5 linked regions of the Homo sapiens genome follow. The protein of the gene in region 1 purifies or fractionates together with the protein of each later gene. This does not show direct contact. Each region holds a gene or a part of one and is shown in the gene's direction. Other genes may lie near its edges.

Evidence for each region.
Region 2: the proteins of PPP2R3A (region 1) and SLX4 purify together in Homo sapiens (co-immunoprecipitation; one large-scale study listed by IntAct). This does not show direct contact.
Region 3: the proteins of PPP2R3A (region 1) and PPP2R1B purify together in Homo sapiens (affinity purification with mass spectrometry; 2 studies listed by BioGRID and IntAct, with this or other methods). This does not show direct contact.
Region 4: the proteins of PPP2R3A (region 1) and LIMD1 purify together in Homo sapiens (co-immunoprecipitation; 3 studies listed by BioGRID and IntAct, with this or other methods). This does not show direct contact.
Region 5: the proteins of PPP2R3A (region 1) and GAS2L1 purify together in Homo sapiens (co-immunoprecipitation; one large-scale study listed by IntAct). This does not show direct contact.

What each region holds. Positions count from the first base shown.
Region 1 is NC_000003.12:135,999,786-136,003,952, forward strand, and holds part of PPP2R3A (serine/threonine-protein phosphatase 2A regulatory subunit B'' subunit alpha), read left to right. Parts: intron 1-1,273; 5' UTR 1,274-1,713; coding exon 1,714-3,708; intron 3,709-4,167. UniProt on the Homo sapiens protein: The B regulatory subunit might modulate substrate selectivity and catalytic activity, and might also direct the localization of the catalytic enzyme to a particular subcellular compartment.
Region 2 is NC_000016.10:3,590,440-3,594,606, reverse strand, and holds part of SLX4 (structure-specific endonuclease subunit SLX4), read left to right. Parts: intron 1-7; coding exon 8-154; intron 155-1,741; coding exon 1,742-1,908; intron 1,909-3,296; coding exon 3,297-4,167. UniProt on the Homo sapiens protein: Regulatory subunit that interacts with and increases the activity of different structure-specific endonucleases.
Region 3 is NC_000011.10:111,742,118-111,746,284, reverse strand, and holds part of PPP2R1B (serine/threonine-protein phosphatase 2A 65 kDa regulatory subunit A beta isoform), read left to right. Parts: intron 1-2,754; coding exon 2,755-2,909; intron 2,910-3,619; coding exon 3,620-3,762; intron 3,763-4,140; coding exon 4,141-4,167. UniProt on the Homo sapiens protein: The PR65 subunit of protein phosphatase 2A serves as a scaffolding molecule to coordinate the assembly of the catalytic subunit and a variable regulatory B subunit.
Region 4 is NC_000003.12:45,597,212-45,601,378, forward strand, and holds part of LIMD1 (LIM domain-containing protein 1), read left to right. Parts: intron 1-4,167. UniProt on the Homo sapiens protein: Adapter or scaffold protein which participates in the assembly of numerous protein complexes and is involved in several cellular processes such as cell fate determination, cytoskeletal organization, repression of gene transcription, cell-cell adhesion, cell differentiation, proliferation and migration.
Region 5 is NC_000022.11:29,309,650-29,313,954, forward strand, and holds the end of GAS2L1 (GAS2-like protein 1), read left to right. Parts: intron 1-789; coding exon 790-897; intron 898-988; coding exon 989-1,085; intron 1,086-1,177; coding exon 1,178-1,349; intron 1,350-1,812; coding exon 1,813-2,848; 3' UTR 2,849-3,138; downstream 3,139-4,305. Other genes in the region: RASL10A (ras-like protein family member 10A), read right to left, coding at 3,652-3,919, 4,214-4,305. UniProt on the Homo sapiens protein: Involved in the cross-linking of microtubules and microfilaments. Regulates microtubule dynamics and stability by interacting with microtubule plus-end tracking proteins, such as MAPRE1, to regulate microtubule growth along actin stress fibers.

The sequences.
Region 1 (4,167 bases):
TTTTCTGAGATGGAGTCTCGCTCTGTCACCCAGGCTGGAGTGCAGTGGCGTGATCTCGGCTCACTGCAACCTCTGCCTCCCGGGTTCAAGACATTCTCCTGCCTCAGCCTCCCGAGTAGCTGGGACTACAGGCCATGTCATCTCCCACATTGTCTCCTTGCTTTCTCTGCTCCACCCACTTTGGTCACTTTGCCATTCTTTTAGTGAATCACGCATGCTCCACTCTAGGGCCTTTGTACTTGCGGTTATTCTACCCTGGAGGATTTACCTCATAATACCTCCTTGGCCTCCTTCCTCTAGTCTTTCAGGTCTCTGCTTTTCAGATGTCAGTGAGGTCTTCTCTGACAACCCTTCATAAAACAGCACCCTCCCAGCATTTCTAAACCCTTGCCCTGCATCATTTTTCTCCCCAACACATGCCACCATATGATAAGTTTATATGTTTAACTTGTATGTTGGGTTTTTTCCCCTTGTTTTATTTCCTGCTCTATCCCTAGTGTATACAAAGAACCTGGTACACACAGTAGGTAGTCAGTATTTGTTGACGGAATAAATACATTGACAGAACCTTCTTGGAAAGCAACTACAGTATATTTTAAAAGCTGTTCTTTAAAAAGAATGATTAAGTAAATTCTGTCCACTTGATGCAGAGAGAGAGATATCCACATGGAGCAGGGTCTGGGAGATGGGATCAAGATCAGTAATGAAACTTGTGTTTTCTTTCAGTAAGCAAAAAGAAGATGATGGGAGAATAATTTCTAGGAGTAGAGGAAGTTTGAGACTCAAGAACAGGTACTAGGTGTTGGTAGTCTTTGAGAAGACTAGGTTGATGGAAGCAAAAGGTTGGTGCAGGGACATAGTAGAAAATATGATTATAGATGGATTGGAACAGGTGTTGAGGGACTTAAAAGTGAGTCAAAAGAGGTAGACTTGCTGTGATCCATGAGGAAATCAGAAGTGTGAATTTTTAAGCTGTGAGGGATGAAAATGCCGTGTAAATCTAAGCTTCTTAATATCATATAAGGTGGCAAGGAGCATGCAATAAGAAATTCATCTCAGAGGCAGATGTGACAAGGCAGAGTTGAGGTAATATTACTCTAGGCAATAAGGAGTATAAGGTGTGATGAAACAAAGGCATGAGTTGAATATCAGCTGTAAGGGATATTGCAGATAATAAAGCGTGGTGGTTAACTGCAAATGGGATGCAAAGAAAGAGGAAATCAAAAGTTCCAGCATTAAAAAAATTTCCTTTTAATTTTTTTTTTTATTACAGGTTTCTCTGTCATTCACAGAAAAATGAATCATTTAAACCTTTGGAGGACTCAGTTATCACAATACTTCTCTACTACCAACTAAGATTTATGATAGTAAATTTATGAGAGCAAATTTCCATGTTATAGAACTGTTGAAGAACTAAAAGAGGATATTCTTTCATCAAAATAATTCTGCAGTATCATAATATTACTAAATAAAATTAAAAAGCACAATTATTAAATTATTAAATTTGCCACACATGTGCAGCAGCTACTGTATCCTGATAGTGACCAAACCTCAAATATAAATGGTTTCCCTTCATGGGAAAAGCCATTATATTTGGAAGAAACCACTGAACATTGTTATTAAATATATTTTCAGCTAACTGTCATTTAGGAGAATTTTCATGAAACAAGTTCTAGAAAGTTCCAAGTCCCACCAGTAAGTGGATTTGATATTATGGCAGCAACTTACAGACTTGTGGTTAGTACTGTGAACCACTACAGCAGCGTGGTGATAGACCGGCGTTTTGAACAAGCTATACATTATTGCACTGGAACCTGCCACACCTTCACACATGGAATTGACTGCATTGTGGTACACCATAGTGTTTGTGCAGACCTCTTGCACATCCCTGTGTCTCAGTTCAAAGATGCAGATCTGAACTCTATGTTTCTACCCCATGAAAATGGGCTTTCTTCGGCTGAAGGAGACTATCCCCAACAGGCCTTCACAGGCATACCCAGGGTCAAGAGAGGATCTACATTTCAGAATACCTACAACTTAAAGGATATTGCAGGAGAAGCAATCAGTTTTGCCAGTGGGAAAATAAAAGAATTTTCCTTTGAAAAACTCAAAAACTCTAACCATGCAGCTTACAGAAAGGGAAGGAAAGTTAAGTCTGACTCATTTAATAGGAGGTCAGTTGATTTGGACTTGCTTTGTGGCCATTATAACAACGATGGGAACGCCCCATCCTTTGGTTTACTGCGGAGTTCCTCAGTTGAGGAAAAACCTTTGTCTCATAGAAACTCACTGGATACGAACCTGACTTCCATGTTTCTTCAAAACTTTTCTGAAGAAGACTTGGTTACTCAGATTTTGGAAAAACATAAAATAGATAATTTTTCTTCTGGGACAGACATAAAGATGTGCTTGGACATCTTATTGAAATGCTCCGAGGATTTAAAAAAATGCACAGACATCATAAAACAATGCATAAAGAAAAAATCAGGGAGTAGCATCAGTGAAGGAAGTGGTAATGATACAATTTCTAGCTCTGAAACTGTCTATATGAATGTAATGACCAGGTTAGCATCCTATCTGAAAAAGTTACCATTTGAATTCATGCAGTCTGGGAATAATGAGGCTCTAGATTTAACAGAACTGATCAGTAATATGCCTAGCTTACAACTGACTCCCTTCTCCCCAGTGTTTGGCACTGAACAACCCCCTAAATATGAAGATGTTGTCCAGCTCTCAGCTTCTGACTCTGGACGATTTCAAACTATTGAATTGCAAAATGACAAGCCTAATTCTAGGAAGATGGACACTGTACAATCCATTCCAAACAACTCCACAAATTCCTTATATAACTTAGAGGTAAATGATCCTAGAACTCTAAAAGCTGTCCAGGTCCAATCACAGTCATTAACCATGAATCCTTTAGAAAATGTTTCTTCTGACGACTTAATGGAAACTCTTTATATTGAAGAAGAGTCAGATGGAAAGAAAGCATTAGATAAAGGACAAAAGACAGAGAATGGACCTAGTCATGAGTTATTAAAGGTAAATGAACATAGAGCAGAATTTCCAGAACATGCTACTCATCTTAAAAAATGCCCCACCCCAATGCAAAATGAAATTGGTAAGATATTTGAGAAATCATTTGTTAATCTACCTAAGGAAGACTGTAAATCAAAAGTTTCTAAATTTGAAGAGGGAGACCAGAGAGATTTTACAAATTCCAGTAGCCAGGAAGAGATAGATAAATTGTTAATGGATTTGGAATCTTTTTCACAGAAGATGGAGACCTCTCTAAGAGAGCCACTTGCGAAGGGTAAAAACTCTAATTTTTTAAATAGTCACAGTCAGTTGACCGGTCAGACCCTTGTAGATCTTGAGCCTAAATCTAAAGTCTCTTCACCCATAGAAAAAGTCTCACCTTCCTGTCTAACAAGGATTATTGAAACCAATGGACACAAAATAGAGGAAGAGGATCGAGCCCTCTTACTGCGAATCCTGGAAAGCATTGAAGACTTTGCTCAAGAACTAGTTGAATGCAAATCAAGCAGAGGGAGCCTATCACAAGAAAAGGAAATGATGCAAATTCTACAGGAAACCTTGACAACTTCCTCCCAGGCCAATTTATCAGTCTGTAGAAGTCCTGTTGGTGATAAAGCCAAAGATACTACTTCAGCAGTTTTGATTCAGCAGACTCCAGAGGTGATCAAGGTAAGACCCAACAATTTTGAGTCCTAGGAACTCTTTAAAAAATGTTTAGTGTTTGAAAATTTTATAAAGAAAAACTTTTTTGTTAGCCATTTTTTGTTCTACTAAAGCTCTGCCCTACACTAGGAATGATCTCACTCAGCTCAGAGTCAGTAAAAAGCAAAGATTATACAAGATGATAGAGGAAAAAAAAAAAGCAAAGACTTTAGACTCAGACTGGTTCCTACTGCCCTCCCCATACCCTTCATCTTCTTCCCAGCTCTGTGACCAAAGAAAAATTACTTACCTTTAATATCCTCATCTTTATGGTGGAAATAATAAGGATCAAAATAACTTGTGTGAAACATAAGCAAGGTTCCTTACACAAAGTAGGCATTTAATATTAGTCGTCACCCTCCCCAGCCAACCAAGAGACCAGTTGTTACTGCATGCCTGTGTAGACCTGTGTAAGGTTAGTGTAGA
Region 2 (4,167 bases), on another chromosome or scaffold:
GCTTCAGCTCTCCCTCGGGCTGCTGGTTGCTGACTTTGGCGCCATGGTCAATAACCCACACCTGAGTGATGTCCAGTTTCAGACGGACAGCGGGGAGGTGCTTTACGCCCACAAGTTCGTGCTTTATGCCCGATGCCCGCTCCTCATCCAGTATGTAAGTACGTGGGCTGCCGTGTGCCCTCCTTTCCTCTCTCTCCCTCTCTCCTCCTGCCTTTCTCCAACCAGGTCTTCCCATGTCTCAGGTGCCCTTTCCACCCCCCCACTCTCCCTCACTTCCTGCCCCACCATGTTCTCACCTTCTCCCTCCCAACCATCCGTTTCTGCAACACGTGGAGAAGAGATAAAGACCCACGCTTGAGGTTAGGAGTGGGTGTGAGGGGATGGCCTCACAACTGGGAAACATCAGTGTTTTCGTTCTGTTGAATGAAAATCCATTGTTTGGCCGGGCGCGGTGGCTCACGCCTGTAATTCCAGCACTTTGGGAGGCCGAGGCGGGCAGATCACAAGGTCAGGAGATCAAGACCATCCTAACACAGTGAAACCAGTCTCTACTAAAAATACAAAAAAATTAGCCGGGCATGGTGGCGGGCGCCTGTAGTCCCAGCTACTCGGGAGGCTGAGGCAGGAGAATGGCATGAACCTGGGAGGCGGAGCTTCCAATGAGCTGAGATTGCACCACTGCACTCCAGCCTGGGCGACAGAGCAAGACTCTGTCTCAAAAACAAAACAAAACAAAAAGAAAATCCATTGTTTCCCAGAATTGTTTTCTCTTTTCTCTATTTGCATAATTACAAAGGCTCATAATTGATCTCCTCAGGGATGAGTTGCTGATGAACCTGCCTTCTGACTTGAAAGCATTTGACTTGAGTGTGGGCAGGAACTCAGGGAGCTATTCTCAGTCTTTGTCAAAGTTCTGGATCCCATATGTGTCTATCAGGAGGACTCTTAACGGGGTCCTGGAATATCTAGTCCCAATACGATTTGACAAAAGAGGAGTGTTAGGCCTCACCTGTAAAATTATTGGCCAAAAATCTGCATAAACAGTGGCTAATGCTTTTCCTGGGGCATGGAGCTGCTTTTAAGACTAGGGACCAGGCACGGCGGCTCATGCCTGAGATCCCCGTACTTTGGGAGACTAAGGTGGGAGGATCGCTTGAGGCCAGGAGTTCAAGACCAGCCTGAACAACACAGTGAGAGCCCATCTCTACAAAAAAATTTAAAAATTAGCCTAGGGGCTGGGCGCAGTGGCTCACGCCAGTAATCCCAGCACTTTGGGAGGCCGAGGAGGGTGGATCACCTGAGGTCAGGAGTTCCAAGACCAGCCTGGCCAACATAGTGAAACCTTATCTCTACTGAAACTATAAAAAATTAGCCGGGCATGGTGGTGGGCGGCTGCAATCCCAGCTACTCGGGAGGCTGAGGCAGGAGAATACGCTGGAACCGAGGAGGTGGAGGTTGCAGTGAGCCGAGATCTCACCACTGCACTCCAGCCTGGGCAACAGAGAGAGATTCCAACTCAAAATAATAAAATTAATTAAAATTTAAAATTAGCCTAGGAGTTCAAGGCTGCAGTAAGCCATGATCACACCACTGTACTCTAGCCTGGGTGACAAGGGGAGACACTGTCTCTAAAAAGAAAAATAAAAAGACTAGTGACTTGCAGGACACCCCAGACCGTCTGCTTTGCTCCAAGTTACAACTCTCTGATCAGTAAACCCTCTGTGTTGCATTTCACCTGCAGGTGAACAATGAAGGCTTCTCCGCTGTAGAGGACGGGGTTCTGACCCAGCGTGTCCTGCTGGGTGACGTGAGCACCGAGGCCGCCCGCACGTTCCTGCACTATCTCTACACTGCGGACACTGGCCTTCCTCCTGGCCTTAGCTCTGAGCTGAGCTCCCTGGCCCACAGGTCTGGATTGCTCCCCAGCTTTTGAAATTAACTGACGAGGACTGGCAGGTTAACAGCTCTGGAGGGTTGTGCTGCAGAGGGCTCGGGGCTGAGGCCAAGAGAACTAACAGTCCTGTTTATACCTTTTAATCCCAAGTCCATGACCAGTGATGACCCTGTGGAACAGGGCATGTTAGGTGAAAGTCAGGCCAGAACAGACCCTTGCAGGGGTGCCAAGCACTGGATCAGGAGGACTCTATTGAGTCCCGTGGTTTTTAACCCCCTAGGTGTGATAAGAGAATGGCCCTTGGCTACAGCGCCCCCCAACACTGCTGCTCAGTGATTGTTCCACCACTAGACCTGAACAACAGCAGTCCTTTCCAGAGTCCCATAAAACAGGCATGGAGAGAATGCTTAGGCTGCATCCCAGATGCCACAGCTCTCCTGGCTTGTCCAGCCAGCATCTTAGGAGAGAGGCAGCAGCTCAGAGGGACAAGTGTTGTGCCTCTGGACAGGGCCTGGGCCGCTGATCCGAGCCTGCGTCCTCCCTCCGCTGCTTTCTTAGGAAAGGAACAGCTCAGCCTCTGGAGTTGGAAATATACTGACGGGCCACAGAGCCTTCAAGCAGGTGGCTGGCTGGCTTGCCCGTTGGCCTGGGCTGACTCAAGGACTTGGTGTGCTGTGGATTGTGTCTGATGCCATGTCTTTTCATTTATTTTTTATTTTTTGGAGAGACGGAGTGTCGCTGTGTTGCCCAGGCTGTTCTTGAACTCCTGACCTCAAGCAATCCTCCTGCCTCCGCCTCCCAAAGTGCTGGGATTATGGGCATGAGCCACCATGCATGACCTTTTTTATCCTTTTAGAGACAGAGTCTCTTGCTGTTGCCCAGGCTGGATGGCAGTGGCATGATCACAGCTCACTGTAGCCTTGAACTCCTAGGCTAATTTTTACATTTTTTTGTAGAGATGGAGACTTTCTATGTTGTCCAGGCTGATCTCAAACTCCCGGCCTTGAGTGATCCTCGGCTTCCCAAAGTGCTGGAATTTCAGGCATGAGCCACAATGCCTGGCTCTGACACCATATCTTAAGAGCCTCTGAGGCAGCACAGACTCCCCAGTTTTGTAGCTCTGCCAATCCCTGTTACCTTACATTCAGTCCGACACACCCCTTTATGTCTGCAGCTATAGTTAGGAAGCCCTGCTTTAAGTGTTGTCAGTCCCCGGTTTCTGGAACTAAGTGGCCTGGGTGTTTCTGGCAAGGAGTGTGGACACCGTCTTCAAAGGGAAGCAGGGCCTGGGTCATGGTCATTCCTCCTGGTGAAGACTCTGCTCTGGTCCGCCACCCCACCGGGGCACCCAGAGCCCATCTCCACGCAGAGGGGCGATGACTGTCGATGTTTCGTGTTGCAGGTTTGGCGTGAGTGAGCTCGTTCACCTGTGCGAACAGGTGCCTATTGCCACTGACTCAGAGGGCAAACCATGGGAGGAGAAGGAAGCAGAGAATTGCGAAAGCAGGGCCGAGAATTTCCAGGAACTCTTGAGGTCAATGTGGGCAGATGAAGAGGAGGAAGCGGAGACTTTGTTGAAATCCAAGGACCACGAAGAAGATCAAGAAAACGTGAATGAAGCAGAAATGGAAGAAATTTATGAATTTGCAGCTACTCAGCGAAAGCTTCTCCAGGAAGAAAGGGCAGCGGGTGCCGGCGAGGACGCTGACTGGCTGGAGGGTGGCAGTCCGGTTTCTGGGCAACTCCTAGCAGGTGTCCAGGTGCAGAAACAGTGGGACAAGGTGGAGGAGATGGAGCCGTTGGAGCCAGGAAGAGATGAGGCCGCCACCACCTGGGAGAAGATGGGACAGTGCGCTCTCCCGCCACCCCAGGGCCAGCACTCAGGGGCACGGGGAGCAGAGGCCCCTGAGCAGGAGGCGCCAGAGGAGGCGCTTGGCCATTCCAGCTGCTCCAGCCCTTCCAGGGACTGCCAGGCAGAGAGAAAAGAAGGCTCTCTTCCGCACTCAGATGATGCCGGGGATTACGAACAGCTCTTCTCATCAACTCAGGGAGAGATCTCAGAGCCGTCCCAAATAACAAGTGAGCCCGAGGAACAAAGTGGCGCTGTCAGGGAAAGGGGGCTGGAGGTTTCTCATCGCCTGGCTCCCTGGCAGGCATCTCCACCGCACCCGTGCCGCTTCCTATTGGGGCCTCCCCAGGGCGGGAGTCCCCGCGGGTCTCATCACACAAGTGGGTCGTCCCTGTCAACACCCCGGTCCCGTGGCGGAACTTCC
Region 3 (4,167 bases), on another chromosome or scaffold:
AGTATTCCGTGGTGTATATGTGCCACATTTTCTTTATCCAGTCTGTCATTGATGGGCATTTGGGTTGGCCTCAAGTCATTCTATGCTTTCTTTAAAAGTTGGCATTTTAGATTAAGATGGTGTTTTATTTTGAGGAATTTTTAAAGTTCTAATATTCCACAAAGAATTAAATTCCTGGCACCCTTTCTCTGTAAGATTGTCTTCTCTATGCAACTTGATTACTCCTTCCTCTTTTCGGATTTTCTCTTTCAGTTTGGGAGCAGGAGAAACCCTTGTTTATTTCACTGCAGCAGCATGCTGAAGTGGGGACTGCAAGAGTTCCATGAACCAATGAAATAACAGCTCTGAAATTGTTTTGTACTTAATCACAGGAGCTTTTTTGCTTTTGCATTTCAGATAAGTGTTATATAATGATCACTGGATCAGTTAGAGTTTTTGAAACTTTTCCCCTAGTTAGGTAACTACTAAAAGAACATTGTGAAAATTCCAGAGAAGTATAAGGAAGAAAGTATCACTCACCTATATTCCTGTGGTTGAGTAGACAGTTTTGATCAGAGGGAGGAATGTAGAAGGGAAATTTATTTATTTATTATAGGAGAAAGGAGAAGGTATCAGTTATTGAGCATAGATAGACATTCAAAGAAACCTTGCAGGTCAGCCAGGCCTTGAGAGGAGATGGGGAGAGAGAAAGAGACAGAAATAGACAAAAGAAAACAGGCAGAACTCTGGAATGGTTTGCATTCTTCTGAAAACAGTCAGAGGAACCAAGAACATAGTAGGCATCTGGCCAAGTAGAGTTCAGTGCAGTTAAGGTCTTGGTCAAGGCTATGCATGTGTGTTCCCCAGTCTCTGGTTTTTCTGGCAGTAGAGATCCCTTCCTATGGTAATGGCATTATGATAAAAATCTAAAGCGTGTTAAAAAAAATAGTAATTTGCTGAGCATGGTGGCTCATGCCTGTAATCCCAGCACTTTGGGAGGCTGAGGCGGGTGGATGACTTGAAGTTAGGAGTTCGAGACCAGCCTGGCCAACATGGTGAAACCCTGTCTCTACTAAAAACACAAAAATTAGCTGGATGTGTTGGCGGGCGCCTGTAATCCCAGCTACTCAGGAGGCTGAGGCAGGAGAGTTGCTTGAACCCAGGAGGCGGAGGTTGCAGTGAGCCGAGATCTCGCCACTGCACTCCAGCCTGAGAGACAGAGTGAGGCTCTGTCTCAAAAAAAAAAAAAAAAAAAAAATTAGAGGAGAAGACACAAATACTCTAGCTAGCTCCTCTTTAGTGGGGAGGACAGGGAAGGGTTTGGGCCAAAGACAAAGACTATGGATATGAAGGGAAGGAATCTGTATTACAGTAAAACAGTTGACTTGAGTTTGCTCCTTAGTGCATCTGAGTCTTACCGAAAGGTTGCTTCTCCTGTAGACTGTCAGTTTAAGTGTTGATAATCAGTTGTATGGGTCACTTGTCTATGCTGTCTTGCTTGTTCTCAACATCATTGCCCAGAAGGATCTATGAATAGAAGAAGTTGCCTATTTCTTGGTTGGAGGCTTGTATAAATTGCCTAGGACTGGGACTGTGGCTTGGATAGCTATTCCTGCCCTTCCTATCATCCCAGGAAGGTTGGGCCCACCTGGGGAGAGAAGTAGAATAAGGAATTAGTACCTACCACCCTCGATTTGTTAATCTGAGCCCAAATTTTGAGTCTTACTGGATCTGTAAAGTGAAGTGACACCAGGCTTGTTTTTGTTCAGTGCTGTATATAGCAACTAATTGTGAGAGGATTGTAGCTGAGACCTTTATTATCTAGCTTTATGTCTTTGATAAATGATCAAAGGATATAGGGAATTATTAGATGTTAAGGCAGGCACATTGATTCAAAGACATTTGACATCTTGTTTCAACCTAAGCATTTTCATGGAGAGGAAGCAAGTCAGTCTGATGTTTGTATTTGCTGTTGTATAGATGACCACAGTGGCCTCTACACCATTTCCTTGTTGTCTTTCTCAGTCAACGTCGCTTCTCCGTGATGTTGCTGGAATAATCTTGCTAAAATTCCACATTGGTCATCAGGTCACAAGTTTGCTTTAAAAACCCATCACTGTTTTTCCTAATCAAATCTAAGTCTTTCATAATGCTCTGCAGTCTGGGTCCACCCTAATTGTCTAACTTAGAAGTCTCACAGGTTTCAGTTTTTTCTGTTTGTGTCCTGGATACATGTCTTTACCCTTTCTAGGAATTCCTCCCCGCTTCTCTCCACTTACACAGATCCTCCCAAATCTTCACTGCCCAGTCAAGGCTTCTTTCTGTGCCGAAGCCTTCCTAGACCTTCCCTGTTCACTCTTCTCTGCACTGCTACAACCCTCACAGCCTTTACTACACAATGCCACACTTCATTCTAATTGCTCTTACACCATGTGACTTCATGGAGTGTGTTAGCTTTCATTTCTCTGATAAGAGCATATTTCTTGTGAGGGAAAGTATCTTCTGTGTTCTTTTTGTAGCACATAGTAGGCACTTGTATTTGTTAAATAATTGATGATGCATATGGTGAGCTCCTTGCATCCCTTTTCTGTGGATATGCACACTTGGAAACTGAGTTGGAGCTGAGCATGCTTGTCATTGCAGCATGATTACATGTGGAGTCTGATTGCAGAGGGGTTTTGCTTTTGGTCCACATTTGATTTTCATGTAAGTAAACTAGGTTATGCTTAAAAAACAATAAGCGATATGAGAACATGTTTTTGACCTCTTCTGCAGTATACGCCATCCGAGAAGCTGCCACCAACAACCTCATGAAACTAGTTCAGAAGTTTGGTACAGAGTGGGCCCAAAATACTATTGTTCCCAAAGTGTTAGTAATGGCAAATGATCCTAATTACTTGCATAGAATGACCACTTTATTCTGCATTAATGTAAGTATAACATAACTGTTATTGCTAAGCTTAATCATTAAAGCAAAATTATTCATGACTATTTCTGAATTATCAGTATACTGTCTTCTATTTGGAATATATGTCTTGTATTGATTAATTGGAATAGACAGGAGATGAGAGAAAATGTCAATTTTAAAATTCATGTTAAAATCTACAGTATTGGCTGGGCACAGTGGCTCATGCCTGTAATCCCAGCACTTTGGGAGGCTGAGGCGGGCAGATCACCTGAGGTCAGGAGTTTGAGACTAGCCTGGTCAACATGGCAAGACCTTGTCTCTACTAAAAATACAAAAATTAGCCGGGCATGGTGGTGCATGCCTGTAGTCCCAGCTACTTGGGAGGCTGAGGCAGGAGACTCCCTTGAACCTTGGGCAGGGGGCAGAGGGTGCAGAGGTTGCAGTGAGCTGAGATCGCGCCACTACACTCCAGCTTGGGCGACAAGGCAAAACTCCGCCTGAAAAAAAAAAAAACAAAGAACAAAACTACAGTATTTTAAAAGTTCAACTTATTTGTGAATTCTGGTCTAATTCTCTGATCATTTGAATGATTCTTGTGTCCCCCACTCAGCTGCTCAAACTAGAAATATTTTCCTATTGGTCAATTATTTTCTTATTAAATATTAATTTGTTTCATTAGATTTTGGAATTTTTTAAAGTATTTTAAATGTGCCATCTTACTTATTTTTCTAGGCACTGTCTGAGGCCTGTGGTCAGGAAATAACTACTAAGCAAATGCTGCCCATCGTATTAAAAATGGCAGGAGACCAAGTAGCAAATGTTCGCTTCAATGTGGCCAAATCTCTACAAAAGATTGGACCAATTCTAGATACCAAGTAAGATTTTAGTGTTTAGTCTTGTTTTAAAAGTGTACTTTAAATTTTACCTTATAGTGGGGAGTAATTAGCTAAAATTAAGTTCAGGGATTTTCACTTTACTTAAGATCTGGGTTTGCTTAAAGAAAATAATTTAGCAACTATTTTTGAGGATGTCCACTATGACTTTTATATTTAAGCTCTGTAAATGTGTAGATCCTTGTCTGAAGCTGATTTTGCTGAGAATTTCTTTAGACATTATTTTGTGTATTTGTCAAGTTTATAAATGTCTTTATTTTTTTACTTTAAATTTTAACAATTACCATTAACCATATACACCAAAAAGGATTTCTATGGCCCATTAGACTGTCTTTCACAGATAATACTTTTGAATGTCAGTGCTTTACAGGGAGAAGTGAAGCCAGT
Region 4 (4,167 bases), about 90 Mb from region 1:
GAAACTGATTAGAAATGGAAATTCTTGGGCCCCACCCAAGACCTACTGAATCAGAAACTGTGGGATGGGACCCAGCCAGCCGTGATCCTGCTGTGTGGTGAGATTTGAGCCCTGCCGCACCATGTGCCTCCTAACCCAGCCTACACCCAGGTAACAGCCAACAGCCAGGTTGCACCACAGCCGTGGCACAAACTATGATGGAAAATGTGTCTTCCTGGTTTTACTCAAACTTGCATGTTTTGTTTTATTCTCTTTTTTAAAACCACAAACTCTTGGAGACTGCTAGCTTCAACTTTTTTTCTTTGCACGAGGTTTAGTGGTAGTTGTATCTTTCTGTTGAGTAATGATTAGTTGTCTCATAAGAGAGCTAACTAGAAAGACAGCCTATTCGCAGAGAATCGGAGGGGTTTTTCTTTTTCAGTTTTTAACTTTGGATAATTGACCCCCGTGTTCCCCATAGCCTGAGTCCTGCTGGGGTAGCAGCTCTGCCTAGTGGAGGGCAGGGACAGGGAAGGCCCTGGGAGAGGAAGACAGCTGGCTTACTGCTGTCAGTCTACGCTTATTCTCCGTGAACGAGCAAGTGTCCCAAGGTCCTTTGAGGGACCAGGGTCTGAGGCACTGGGCTGCTGGATGTGTGCAGCTTATGGTAGCATTGTGTTTTGCTTCTCATGAGAACCTTGTGGGAGCCAGTTCTCACCCCATACTCAGCAGGCTGAGGTCAGGGTAGCTGTTTATGGCTTACTTTTTTTAAATTTATTTTTATTTATTTATTTGTTTATTTATTTATTTATTTTGAGACAAGGTCTTGCCTTGTTGCCCAGGCTGGAGTGCAGTGCACCCTAGACCTCCCGGACTCAAGGCATCTTCCTACCTCAGCCTCCTGAGTAGCTAGGACTACTTAAGAGGAAGCAGGGGAGGAAGGGGACGTGGAGGTGGGGGGTCCTCTCTAGGTTGCCCAGGCTGTTCTTCTGGGCTCAAGTGATCTTCCTGCCTCAGCCTCCCAAAGTGCTGGGATTACAGGTGTGAGCCACTGTGCCCGGCCTACTGGTTTATTTTTTAAAGCACATGGCACCATCTTACTGTGAACTATCTTTTCTCCTCAGCACATTCCCACATTTGGGAGTAATAGTTAGCTGGAAATACTGTGGGTCTTTTAATTTAAACTTTTGTTTAGTTGTAAATTTCAAGCTCATTGGACAACACAAACAGCAGTTTTATCTTGAGATGCAAGTTTATGCTGTGCATCAGAGCAACGGTATTAGCTGACGCTACTCATCCATTCAGCATATATTAAAATTTATTGAGCACCTATCTTGAGGCCATGCTCTATTCCAGGTCTTGGGGATACATAGTGAACAGGACAGACAGGAACCTCTGCCTCCCTGGAGCAGACAATGTAGTAGAAGGAGGCAGGGAGTGAATGAAGTAAATAAGCAAGTACTAGGGAGAGAATCAAGGTAGAGAAAGGGAATGGAGCCCTGGGGCTGGGGGTGGCAGAGAGATTTCCAGTTTTAAATTGGGTGATCAGGGAATGTCCCACCTAGAAGATGCATTTGAGCAAAGGCAGGCAGGAGACTGGACCATGTGTTTTCCCAGGGAAATGGTGTTCTTGGCAGAGCAGACAGCAAGCACAGAGTCCCTGTAGGCCTGGTCTGTGCTGGGCACTGTACTGAACACTTGATGCTGACTATTGAATTGACTGGTCACAGCATCCTTGGAAGCTGGTTCTGCCATTATGCCCATTTTACTGATGAGAAAACGGAAGCTCAGGGAGATTAAATTACTTACTGGCGGTGTCACAGGTCATATTGGGTACTGCTGGGACTTGAACCTGACAGTTCAGTTCAGCCTCAGGGCCCATGTGTCTAACCAGCATTGCCAAACAGTCTCCCAAGCAGAGATTTGGAAGCCTATTTTATTTATTTATTTTTATGGTTTTTTTTTAATTGAGATGAAATTCACATAATGTAAAATTAACCATTTTGAAGTGAACAATTCAGTGGTGTTTAATATTAATACATTCACAACGTTGTACAATGAACACCTCCGTCCAGTTCCAAAATGTTTTCGTCAACCCAAAAGGAAACCCCATACCCATAAAGCAATTGCTCCCTGTTTCCCCCATCCCCTCCCAGCTCCTGGCAACAACCAATGTGCATTCTGTCCCTATGGCATTTACCTATTCTGGAATTTCATTTAGAAACGGAATCGTGTATTTTATTCATTTTTTGTATAAACTTCACAGATAAGCAAGCACGCACAGTGAAAATCGAGCCTCTTTCCCTGGTCTGTCTAGTCAAGTGTTCTGGGTGTAATAAGCATGTGTGTGTTTCTGCCAGCCCCAGTGGTGGCATGCTGTTCCACTGCACAGCGTCTTGGCAGTGGCTCTACATCAGCATGTGTTCAGCTGGCTATACGTGGCTGCTGTGCAATGTGCCTAGGTCACCTAAGGTCACCTAAGCAGCCCTCACTGATGGGCCTTTGGAATGTACCCACCTACAAGGGGCAGGCGTAGCTGCAAGATGAGCTCCCAGGAGTGGGACTGTGGGGCTGCGTGGTTTGTGTCCTTTAGGTGTGGCTTGGTTGCTTCCTGCAGAGCTCATGCCAGGGCTGAGCTGCCAGCTATGTAGGAGAGGGTTTGCTCCACACCTGCTTTGGTGGCAGAGCTTCCATCTGCTCTTCTGCGACCTACCTTGGGGCAGAGGAGGAAGTCTTTCGGTCTGAAGATTGGCAGTCATTGCCTGGCCCTGTGTGGGGACCATGAAGAGACCACATGCTCCTCCAGACCACTCCTCCCTTGTCGGTAGCCTGAGGAGGCTGGACAGCTGAGGGGCTCCCTCCCACAGATACTTTTTCCTCCCCTACATCTGGTATTACTTGAAAGATTTTGTCTACCCAACACGCTACATTTGTTAAATAATGGTTAGATTCTACTTCCAAACAGAAGAATGTTTAATGGTGCAGGGCGCTTGGCAGTGAGAGTCAGAGTGACACAACTCCCCATGAGAGGTGATGTCACTCAGGCCAAAAGCAAAGCAAAGTAGATGTTTGGGTTAGCTTGGGCCCCTTCCTAGGTTGAACTGAAGGTGTCCCTTTGGGCATTTGACTTTGTGGGAAGAGCTTGTGAATCCCTGTTGCCACCTTTGTAAGCCCTTAGAGTCTCAAGATGCCCAGTTTCCAGTTACTGATTAACTTGGCACGGGAACTCTCCTGGCACTTTCCATGGCTGGTCTTTGTGGGTTTAGTAAAATAGGATCCTACAGAGGCGTGTCTCTTTCCCTACTCTGCTGGGCCTACTTCCTCCTCCAGCCATCCTCCCCACCCCCTGTCCCCGTTGCCTCTTTGTGTCTCTCTGTCCATGTTGTTGGGTTTTTGGTCTTCTAGGCGTTGCTCCTGGCCTACACCACCTAGTGCAGTGTGGCTTCTGTTTTAGCACCACTGCTGACACTGCAGAGGTGGGGTGCAGAGGGCACCGTGCCTTTGTTAGTTGTGCCCCACCGTCTCCTCCATGTGATCCACCTATCTTCCTCACACTGGTCCTCTTCTCCCTTTCTAAGGAAAAAGGACACAAGCCGGGTGTGGTGGCTCACACCTGTGATCCCAGCGACTCAAGAGACTGAGGCAGGAGAATTGCTTGAGCCCAGGAGTTTAAGACCAGCCTGGGCAACATAGTGAGACCCCATCTCTACAAAAAACACAAAAATTAGCCAGGCATGGTGGTGCACACCTGTAGTCCCAGCTACTTGGGAGGCTGAGGTGGGAAGATTGCTTGAGCCCAGGAGGCTGAGGCTGCAGTGAGATATGATCATGCCACTGCACTCCAGCCTGGGTGACAGAGGGAGACCCTGTCTCAAAACAAAAACAAAAACAAAAAACCCCACAAATAAACCACTTGTCATAGGCTGGGTTTCCTGGGAAGCTGACTGAGACAGAGTTGACCATACAAGGGCTTATTAAAAGGTGCTTTTGGGGTCCCCACCTGTGGAAGATGGAGAAGGAATCAGGAGTGGGTAGAGGAGAGCTGAGCTGCTGGGACCTGACCCCGCAGGGAGCCTGGGAGCTGGAAAAGTCCTTTAGGGTCATCCTAGTTGGCCTGACATGGCCTGGCCTTCACACTCCCTCATGGATCAGCTGTTGGCTGTGGGCTGCCCAGGAAGATGGTGACTT
Region 5 (4,305 bases), on another chromosome or scaffold:
GTGCGTGCTCACCCGGCCAGTGGTCTGTGTGTGCATGTGTCCGATGTGTCTGTGGTACGCCTCCACATCAGTGCCCACCCAGGGGCATGGGGCCCCCTGCACCTGTGTCCTGTAGCCTGCCTGGCCTTCCTGTGGGCCCCAGCCTTCTTGTCTGAGAAGTGGGTGAAGCGGGAGTGAGGACGGGCTCTGGGCCTTCCCCAGGTCTAGGGGCTGTGGGATGTTCGTCACCGGGTCTCAGACCATGGCCTGACCACAGTCCCATCATCTCATCCTGGGCAGCTCCCTGGACCCAGAGAGCCAAGAAAGGGGAGCCGGTGAAAGGTCATGTGTGGGCCGGGCGTGGTGGCTCGCACCTGTAATCCAGCAATTTGGGAGGCCGAGGCGGGTGGAACTCCTGAGCCTGACCAACATGGAGAAACCCCATCTCTACTAAAAATACAAAATTAGCCGGGAGTGGTGGTGCATGCCTGTAATCCCAGCCACTCAGGAGGCTGAGGCAGGAGAATTGCTTGAACCTGGAAGGCGGAGGTTGCGGTGAGACGAGATCGTGCTATTGCACTCCAGCCTGGGCAACAAGAGCAAAACTCCAACTCAAAAAAAAAAAAAAATAAAAAAAAATAAAAAAAATAAAAGAAAGGTCACGTGTGGAAGCTGTACCCCATCCGGGGCAACACTGCCTCCATCCACTTACCCGGAAAGCCTGACTTCCTCCTGACCCTGGAATGGCTGACATTAAGCCCCAGGAGGAGGACTTGACCTCTGACCCCTACCCTCTCTCTCTGGCCTCAGGTGAGGGAGATTCTGGGCCGCTGCACCTGCCCTGACCAGTTTCCCATGATCAAGGTCTCAGAGGGGAAGTACCGTGTGGGGGACTCGAGCCTGCTCATCTTTGTGCGGGTAAGGGCCTGGGGCCGCCCCAGCGGGCAGCAGCCAAGGTGGTGGGCTGCGGGGCGCCCGGGGCACAGCCGTGACCTGCCCACACCTGCAGGTGCTGAGGAGCCACGTGATGGTGCGAGTGGGTGGTGGCTGGGACACGCTGGAGCATTACCTGGACAAGCACGACCCGTGCCGCTGCTCCTCCACTGGTCAGTGCCAGGGTGGGGCTGGGGCTGGACGGGCAGGGGACTTGCTTCTGTGGCTCTGTCCCTCACATGCTGCCTGTCCTCTCTCCCCGCAGCTCATCGCCCACCCCAGCCGAGGGTCTGCACCTTTTCTCCACAGAGGGTGTCGCCCACCACCAGTCCCCGCCCTGCTAGCCCAGTCCCTGGGAGTGAGCGCCGGGGCTCCCGGCCTGAGATGACTCCCGTTAGCTTACGAAGCACAAAGGAGGGGCCCGAGACCCCACCCAGGTGAGATGCAGGAGGACGAGGAGTGAGGGGTCCAGAGGGTGGGGGGGCGTCAGCCCTGGCCTGCATGATGGGTTGCCTGTGCGCCAGAGTGACTCACACCCTGGGAAAAGTTCCCGTGGGTGGGGGCGGGCCTGGCTTCCCATCTCCATGGCAACCCAACCAAACCAACAACACAGCTGGGGCGGGCCCTGTGGCTGGGCGGCAGCCAGTCCAGCTCTTGCTTCCTCTGGCCCGTCCTGGGAAGGGGGGTGTCTAGAGCCCAGGAAACTTCTTCTTCCGTGGCTTTTGGGGCCCTGGGCCGCTGGAGGAAGCTGCTCACTTCTCCCTGGAAGTCCCCAGGACAGACCGATGCCCCTGACAGCCCCGTCCACCAGCCACATACCCTGCTGTTCCTCTCCCTGCCTGTTCTGCATGCCAGTCCTTCCGTGGTACCCCATCTGTCTCTATTGTCCCCCTGCCCCAGGCCCCGGGATCAGCTGCCCCCCCATCCCCGCTCCCGCCGCTACTCCGGGGACAGTGACTCCTCAGCCTCCTCCGCCCAGAGCGGCCCCCTTGGTACCCGCAGTGATGACACAGGCACTGGCCCCCGGAGGGAGCGACCCAGCCGGCGGCTGACCACAGGCACCCCGGCCTCTCCGAGACGGCCTCCTGCCCTGCGCAGCCAGTCCCGAGACCGGCTGGATCGCGGCCGGCCCCGGGGGGCCCCAGGAGGCAGGGGAGCCCAGCTGTCGGTCCCCAGCCCTGCCCGGCGGGCCCGGAGCCAGAGCCGCGAGGAGCAGGCTGTGCTGCTTGTGCGCAGGGATCGAGACGGGCAGCACTCATGGGTGCCAAGGGGCAGGGGCAGTGGGGGCTCGGGCAGGAGCACCCCCCAGACTCCCCGTGCCCGCAGCCCTGCAGCACCCCGGCTTTCCCGGGTCTCCAGCCCCAGTCCAGAGTTGGGCACCACACCGGCCAGCATCTTCCGCACACCCCTGCAGCTCGACCCGCAGCAGGAGCAGCAGCTGTTCCGGCGCCTGGAAGAGGAGTTCCTGGCCAATGCCCGGGCCCTTGAGGCTGTTGCTAGCGTGACCCCCACTGGACCAGCCCCTGACCCAGCTCGGGCCCCCGACCCTCCAGCTCCTGACTCTGCCTATTGTTCCTCCAGTTCCTCCTCTTCGTCCCTCAGCGTCCTGGGTGGCAAATGTGGCCAACCTGGGGACTCTGGCCGGACGGCCAATGGGCTGCCTGGGCCCCGAAGCCAAGCCCTTTCCAGCTCCTCCGATGAAGGCAGCCCCTGCCCTGGCATGGGGGGGCCACTAGATGCACCTGGGAGCCCCCTGGCTTGCACTGAACCCTCGAGGACCTGGGCACGGGGTCGGATGGACACACAGCCAGACCGTAAACCCTCACGTATCCCCACGCCTCGGGGCCCCCGCCGCCCCTCCGGACCCGCAGAGCTGGGGACATGGCATGCCCTGCACTCAGTCACCCCGAGGGCTGAGCCAGATTCCTGGATGTGATGGACCAGCTCAGCTGTCCCCAGACCCCATCCCTTCTCCTTTTCCTTTGTGGCCTTAACCCTTCTGCATCAGGGAGCCCCCTCTGCCTCTTGAGTACCAGACCTCATGGGACCAGACCCCTTGGGACCACATGGCACAATGGGACCTCTGTTGTACATTCCGGTTGGGGGATGAGCGTTGCTATTTAATTACTAATATTATTGAATGCCTTAGAGGAGGCCGGGCGAGCCCGGTGTTCTGAAGACCTGTGGCCCAGCAGAGCCTCTGACAGTAAAGTTTTGCTCCAGCCACCTGTCTGTTTCTTGGGGACTCCACCTTGGGGCCATTCAGACCCTTTCGAGGACCCTGGAGTTAACTGCCTGGAGGCCAAGCCTGGCAACTCTGACCTCTAGGCTTAAGGCGTTATCCCGCCCAGCCCAGAAATCCCAGGCGCACTCAAATTATTTTCCCTTTTATTATCCCGTGGTAGGTGTGGCATAAAGAATATGTCCAGTGAAGCTCCAGGAGCAGGCTGCGTGTTTCCAGTCAAGTTCATAGCCAAGTCCTTTCCATCCAATGGGATTGTGACCCATTGAGGTCCCAGAAAGGACTGGTCATCTCCAATGGAGCTTGGGACCTGGTTGGGTCCAATGAGGTTCAAAAGGGGGCCAGTCGCTTAGGAGACTGGGTTGGAGCTTTCCTCATCCAATCAGGGCGGAGACTTCCCTGTCCAGTCCCAGTGAAGTTGGGCGATCCCGTCCAATCCAGGTCCCTGATTGTCCCAGTCACAAGGTGGGGCCCATGGATGGCACTGTCCGATCGGGTCACATGAGGCTGCAGCGCGCGGGATGCAGCGCCCCCTGCAGGCGCAGGGCCGGGTGTGCAGGGCGCGCGCGCACCAGAGCGCAGCGCAGCAGCTCGCGGAAGAGACGCAGCACGTGCCAGTTGTACTTGGCGGAGCACTCGAGGTAGCCGCAGCGCCAGCCCCTGCGCACTAGGGCGGCCAGCGCGCGCCGCGGTCCGAAGCGCAGCCGCTGCCTGTCCCGCTTGTTGCCTACCACGAGGATGGGCGCTTCGGGCGCGCCCGCCGGCCTGGGGGCCGAATGGAGATGAGAGACGCGGGGACCCCACGGCCGGAGAATTCCCCCAGTGGGTATACACACGCAGGCGCATTCCCTTCCTACGGCCAGAGACACCGCCCCCCCCGCCGCCCCAACGAAACCCCAGGCCCATGTGGGCCAAAGAGCACATACAGCTTAAGACCTTCCCACGGGCGAAGGCCTAAGACCCGGCCCACGACGTTGGGAGACCCTACACACTCTCCTCAGGCAAAGGCCCTGCCAGACCTGTCCTAGCTCCCCACCGCCAGAACTGCCGGGCCCCTACCTGGTCTCCGCGATGCGCTGCCGCAGGGCCTTCACGTAGTCGAAACTGTCCGGGCTGCAGATGTCGTAGACGAGCACGAAGGCGTCCGTGTC